Homo sapiens: one gene and its partner. The protein of the gene in region 2 purifies or fractionates together with the protein of the main gene of each other region. This does not show direct contact. Each region holds a gene or a part of one and is shown on either strand. Other genes may lie near its edges.

What was found. Proteins that work in one complex are often made in the same cells at the same time.
Region 1: the proteins of ASIC1 (region 2) and ODR4 purify together in Homo sapiens (affinity purification with mass spectrometry; one large-scale study listed by BioGRID and IntAct). This does not show direct contact.

The regions. Positions count from the first base shown.
Region 1 is NC_000001.11:186,389,338-186,392,837, reverse strand, and holds part of ODR4 (protein odr-4 homolog), read right to left. Parts: intron 3,251-3,500; coding exon 3,214-3,250; intron 2,128-3,213; coding exon 1,987-2,127; intron 1,143-1,986; coding exon 1,047-1,142; intron 1-1,046. UniProt on the Homo sapiens protein: May play a role in the trafficking of a subset of G-protein coupled receptors.
Region 2 is NC_000012.12:50,060,596-50,064,095, forward strand, and holds part of ASIC1 (acid-sensing ion channel 1), read left to right. Parts: intron 1-3,500. UniProt on the Homo sapiens protein: Forms voltage-independent, pH-gated trimeric sodium channels that act as postsynaptic excitatory receptors in the nervous system, playing a crucial role in regulating synaptic plasticity, learning, and memory.

The DNA of each region.
Region 1 (3,500 bases), on a different chromosome or scaffold from region 2:
AGAGACAGGGTTTCACCATGCTGACCAGGCTGGTCTTGAACTCCTGACCTCAAGTGATCTGCCCACCTTGGCCCCTCAAAGTGCTGGGATTACAGGCATGAGCCACCACGCCTGGCCCCTGCCTCCCAAGTAGCTGCAATTACAGGCACCTGCCACCAATGCCCAGCTAACTTTTGTATTTTTAGTAGACACAGGGTTTCACCATGTTGACCAGGCTGGTCTCAAACTCCTGACCTCAAGTGACCCACCCACCTCGGCCCCCCAAAGTGCTGGGATTACAGACATGAGCCACCATGCCTGGCCCCTGCATTCGTTTTCTAAGGATAAAGGCCTCCAGCTCCATCCATGTTCCTGCAAAGGACATGATCTCGTTCTGTTTTAATGGCTGCACAGTATTCCATGGTGTATATGTACCACATTTTCATTATCTAGTCTGTCATTGATGGGCATTTAGGTTGATTCCATGTCTTTGCTATTGTGAATAGTGCTGCAATGAACATAATGCATGCATGTGTCTTTACAATAAAACAATTTATATTCCTTTGAGGGTATAGCCAGTAATAGGATTGCTGGGTCAAATGGTATCTCTGTTTTTAGGTCTTTGAGGAATCAACACACTGCCTTCCACAATGGTTGAACTTATTTATACTCCCACCAACGGTTTATAAGCATTCCTTTTTCTCTGCAGCCTTGCCAGCATCTGTTATTTTTTGACTTTTTAATAACAGCGATTCTGACTGGTGTGAGATGGTATCTCATTGTGGTTTTCATTTGTGTTTCTCTACCGATAGTAATGCTGAGTTTTTTTTCATACGATTCTTGGCTGCATGTATGTCTTCTTTTGAAAAGTGTCTGTTCATATCCTCTGCCTACTTTTTAATGAGGTTGTTTTTCTAAGAAAAACATTTGCCTTTTACTTTAAATCAGAAATCAGAAATGAGAGGTAGATGAAATCAGTTTTCTTGTAGGCAAGGACTAAAAATAAGTCATGTTTTATTTTTCCTTAAGCACTAACAATTTAATAAGATGATTTTCTCTTAACTTACCTGTCCTTCTAATAGGTCACAATCTTCATCTTTAACTTGTCCATTAATCAAATAAACACCATTTTCTATTTCCTTGGCCCAGCGTGTAAGTCCATTCTTAACAGAAACACAACATGGAAATCTTTCAGATACAATGCCATCTCAATTAAACTTCCTATAATCTACTTTGTTCCACCTAATAAATTGAAATATTAAAATCCCTAAATCTCATTACTGCAGCATTTAAATCTAGTTTCACAAATTAAAAAAAAGTATACCCCCATTCTTGATACCTTATTATATTTAATAATAGTTATTTTCTGATCTTTATCCCAGAATAACATTTATGTCACAGACTCAGGAGGTTATTAAGTACATGATCAGTTAAATAAAATTTAATGCCCACTACCTTAAAAAAAAAAGTGAGAAAAAAGCATCAAATAAGTCTAAAAAATAAAAAAAAAAAGCTCTATTTGACATCTTCAATGGGAAAAATGAAGAAAAATAAGATAAAAATAAAAGAATGGTATAGAAATACAAAAAAGAACTGGAAAAAGGAAGACAAAAAAACCTAAGTACTAAGAGAAAGCTAAAAGTCCAAACAGTATAGCTTCTTACATTAATTACATTTTACATGTTAATTAATGAATACTGTTATATTTAGTTTAATGACAAAGCACATAATAATACTTAATCAGCACATAATAAGTACTAGTATATTTAGTCTAACAACTAAATTATTAGTTATTATTAAACTGAATATACTAGTATTATGACATTGTTCCACTTCTAAAAATTTCTAAAAATTTCTAATTTGGCTGCGGTAATAAGTTACTCACATAACAACATTGTAAGCAGAATGTAATTTTTGAGGATTGTAAAATGAATGACACATGTAAGCAGAATAAAAGCAGATTGTTCACTCAGCAATCACTGAAGAAAATTCATTTTACCCTGGTACCTTTGTATTTTTCTCCAGAGTATAGCTGACAGAAGTAGCAGAAAGTGGGATGTGAATATTAATGTGAACTGTACACTCTAAAGAAAGCCATGAGGATGATAATCCACTTTGATACTTCCAATCTGCTGGTCTTGCTGAACTCTAGCAGTGGAGAAGGGAGAAAAATAACTATGATGTAGTCTAGATAAAATACATGGATCAACAAAACATTATTAAATATACAACCTAAATAACGCATACAAACTCATATCTAACATATATGGCTAAACCCTTGATCAAAAGACTATAGGTTGAACTAAACACAAAATAAAGCATGTGTTAAGTTCAGTACTCTTCAATACATCCTTGGCAATACTTCTCCTCCCAATGGTAGGCAGAAAAAGAATCAGAAATTTCCATGTTTAGAATTCTGAAAGGTCCTTTGATCCTCTAGCTTCAACAGTATCAATACTGAAGATTCTGATCTGAAGCAAATAATCACTGAGCAACTCCTAGGTGGCAGGCATTCTCCTTTCTGTCCCATCCTTGCTAATGACACTGCAAAGTTACTTTTTCACAACCCTTTTAGATGCATTAGCAAAGTGCTAATCTGGGTTTTGCTGAATACACATAGCTTGTTTAATAGGCAGTGCAGCTACCAAAAGTCCTCAGTCACTTTTACTACCAGCCTCTCAAATATAAAACTAAATACACAAACAAGGTAGGAGGAGATTAACAAAGATATTTTAACAATTTTTTAAAAAGTTGGCTGGCCGTGGTGGCTCAAGCCCGTAATCTCAGCACTTTGGGAGGCGAAGACAGGCAGATCACTTGAGCCCAGAAGTTCAAGACAAACATAACTAACATGGTGAAACCCTATCTCTATCAAAAAAAACAAAAAACAAAAAACAAAAATAATTAGCCAGGTGCAGTGGTGCACATCTATAGTCTCAGCTACTCAAGAGGCTGAGGTGGGAGGATCCCTCGAGCCCAAGAGGTGGAGGCTGCAGTGAGCTATGACTGCATCACTGCACTCTAGCTTGGGCAAGAGAGTGAGACCCTGTCACGCACAAAAAAGTTTTCCTTATCTGTAATAAAATTAATCATATTTCAAAATAAAAACTACAGTTGTTTGTAGGCATCAATAGGAAGTGATGGCAATGGAAATTATTAAAACTAAATAAAAGCTGAATTTTGATTGAAAATACTTTGTGACACAGAAAAATCTTTAAAGAGTAAATTTCTTACCTTTGGATCATGGATATCATAAGTTCGACAAAATATTCTTCACTAATTAAGGACAGAAATAACCAAAAAAGGCATTATTGGTAACTAAAAGAATATAAACTATCAAAAAATAAACTAAAAAATGCACGCATCCAAAAGTTCTTACAAAATCATAACACTTTAAAGATATGCGTACATATATGTACATGTGTGCATATATATACATATGTGTATATATAATCATACATACAAACTGCTATCACTATAGTACTTGCGGTGCTTGAAAATCATTTCCTACCTTTTATGAA
Region 2 (3,500 bases):
TCTGAGGAAAGGAAGGCCATCGGGACACCCAGTCATGGCTGCCCTGGAGGCTTCCTTTGCATCTTAAAATGGAGATGCCCCACAGATGTGGCTGCCTCAGGCCAGCACCTCAGGGAGGGCATAGGGAAACTGATTTTGGCATCTGATGTGCTGGGCAACCCTGGGCAAGTCACACAGATTCCTGAGGGTTAAGACCTGGACCCAGATGGCAAAGAGACCAGAGGCTCCAGAGCCATGCAGGAACAATAACACCAAATGAATGGACAATGCTTGTAACTCTTTCAAATGCTTTCTAGGCTCCCCTCAATCCCCTTGATACATAATCACATTACCTCTGTTTTACAAATGCACGAAACTGAGACACAGGCAGAATGATTTACCCAAGCTCACACAGTTAGTGACAGGTGACAGGTTCAGGATTAGAACTCATGTCTTGTTAAGCTGAAAATGTCCTTTACTCTTTTAATTAATATTGTGGACCCTGGGGTTATTGTGTCCACTTCAAATTCTTGCCAGTCTTTTCCAGGACCCTTTGCTCTCCATGCCTACTCAGCTCTTGGATTCTCTTCCTTCTTCCTGCCTATTTTCTCCCCGCTTGCTTGCTTCCTCCTGCAGTATGGGAATATGAACTGTATTTGTGCAGAAAGGATGGCACCATAGTCATGCTTAGTGTTTCTAGCTGTGCAAGACCTCCCAATATCCTTAAGCCTTGCTCTGCAGACCAGTTTCACTGGCCTTTGTCAATCCTGCTGGACAAAGTTCACATGACTGCACTCTTTGCTGAGCCAAGCTGATGGGGAGCTTAGCCAAGATGCAAGAACCACTTCCTTCCCTCTCTTACTGCTTCATAACAGGAGAGTCCTGGATTCCCCAGAGCTTGAGACCAGAGGGTTTGCAGTCTCACAAGTGATGCTCCCAAGAGTAACAGGACTGTAGGTGAAGGTGGAAGCAAAAGCCAGAGCCGCCTCCCTCCAACACACCCAACACACAAGCAGGAGGGACCCGTGAGAAAGATGGAGAAAACGTATTTGTTTGAGTGGTTTGTAGTGTTGGATGAGGGAGAGAAGTGCTTGGCTCAATCTGAGGAGGTGCTAAGATATAAATTTGGGCACAGTTAGTCCATAGAAAGTATTCAGTTGAGGCTCCATCTGTCCATCATGTCCAGAAAGATTCCAAGTGGTGATGCTAAGATAACATTTGGTTGATGGTAATGGAGACACTGAGATGTGATTGGTCCATGCTGTCTGAGGGGACCATTCTAAGTAGTCAGATGGAGATGTGATTGGCTCACAAAGTTCTGGAGCAGTCTGAATTATTCCTCTTACTCAGGGGTAAAGACACACAGGCTAGCACCCTGCAGCCCCAGCTGTGCCCCTTCTTGCTTCTGGGTTGTCAGGGAAGACCAGGTTTTTGCTGTTTTGCAGCCCATGTCAAAGACCTGACCCTGAATTTTGCTGGACTCAAACCTCTCACTCCTCCCTCTGCTCTCTTCAGTTGGTTTCATTGCCAGCCCCTCTCCATGTCAAGAGCTCTACCCATAGGGATGTTCCCACACAGATGGGCGTCTGGCTGGAGTCCATGTCTGACACCTCCCCGGTGGAGAAGGGCCTGGCAGTCTCTCTCCTCCAGCTCCCCAGTCCTAAGGGCTCCCACACTCCTTGCCTGATACTCCATGCTCTCCCTTCTCTCCTCAGTCTTGTGATTAACATCCTTGCCATTCTCTGCTAGGCCAAGAGGTGTGTTGGGAGTGTGTCTCTAGCCCTGGGCAGATGTAGCACTGACAGGAAACACCTGTCTATAGGGTCGATCTAAGGGAGACCATCTTGGCATCTTCTGCAGCCTTCAGAGCAGAGGTTCTTCACTGAGGAAAGAAGGTAGTCAGGGAAGAGAGGCTTTGTGGTTAGGGCTTTGCTTGCTCTTTCAGTAGCTCAGGAAGAAGCTGCTGGGCCCCATCCAACAGGATTGCTGTGGGATACCACCCCCCACTGTCCAAGACCTTGCTCAATGCTTTTGCAAAGTATAGCGTGCGGGGGCACGTGTGGACTCTTTTGTAGATTTCTAAGGGCAACCCTCTTCTCAACAATAAGAACCCTGTTTCTCAAGGCTGGTTGGGGGAGGCATAAGAAGACAATTCAGGGAGGCTACTCTGGTCACTCAAAGACCCCAGCTCCCCTGATGAGGATCTGCAGTAACAGGCATTTCTCCAGATGTGCTCCTGGATCTAGCTCAACCCCAGGGAATAGTTGGTGGTCACAAAGCATTTGGCCAGGGTCCATCCCCCAGGTGTGGCTGAGTCAGCTTGGGAGGGTGGGGGTGAATATGGGGAGCCTGAGCTGAATCTGGGAGAGACTGGTTTGGAAATCCTTCGGGACTGAAGAGGGAGAAGGGCAGGGCAGGGAGTATCCCCACAGCAACCTGGCTGGGAAGGTTTCAATAGCTGCCTCCTGAGCAACCACAGTGACCCAACCACAAGGCCCCCTCTTCCCGGCCACCTCCTTTTCTTCCTGGTAGGGTGTGTTGTTGCCAAGACAATGGGGTCCATGGCTCCTCTCTCCTGCCCCACCTTGAGGCCAGCCAGGCCAAGGCAGGGCAGGGATTCCATGGAGGGGGGCTGGGGTGCAGCTGTCTGCTGGTGTCTGGGTGGGGGCCAGAGAAGTGAGCACAGTCGCAGCTGGTGCCATCCTCCAGCTGCACCTTATCTGTCCCTGGCAGTGGGAGCAGCTGATGTGGCCAGAATGCTGAGCAGCAGCAAGGGGAGGGGGCTGGCAGATGGTCACCCAGTCTGCCCTATGCCACCCCCTCCTCCGCTGAGACCTAGACCCTTTGCCTAGCGGAGAGAGAAGCAGGAATTCATTTCTGGGGCCTGGAAGAGAAGGAAGAGGAGGACAGAGTGGAAATGCTGGGGTGGACATGTGGTGTGACTCATAATCTCTCTCAGGAGGGTGAAATTGGGGGACAGGAATCCCTGGGAGGGGTCCACAGGAGTCCTTCTCAGGACCCTGGATTGGAGACCAGAATCTCCCAGGGAAGAGGTGGAGTGAATGGGGATGAGCACAGAAGCCTCCCCTGCAATCCACTGCTAGGTTCTGAAGGGGCCCGGGCATCCCCTGGAGCACCTAGGGAAGTAAGATGCTGCAATGAGAGGTGGCTGTGGGCGCCTGATCCTGGGACCCAAAGTGGGGAGAGAGAAGTCATCTTAAAGCAGGAGAGCCAGGGATGGCAGTGCCCAGCAAGAGCCAGGACTAGCATGGAGTTTATTCATCCCTAGGGCTCACCCCTCATCCCCACACCCCATGCTGCCCCATAGAAGCTCAGACCAGAAGTCCCTTGGGAGGGCCTGACCTTACTACTGGGGTCTGCACCCTCCAGCTAGGCAGGGAGTGGAGGGGCTGCTGAAGGGAAAGGCTGCCCAGACTGCCATGCAGACAGGGGAAGGGGAATCTTGGGCAGCCCCACCCAGAGGCCTGGTGGTCTTCATGGGTGGGAAGGGGGAACATGCA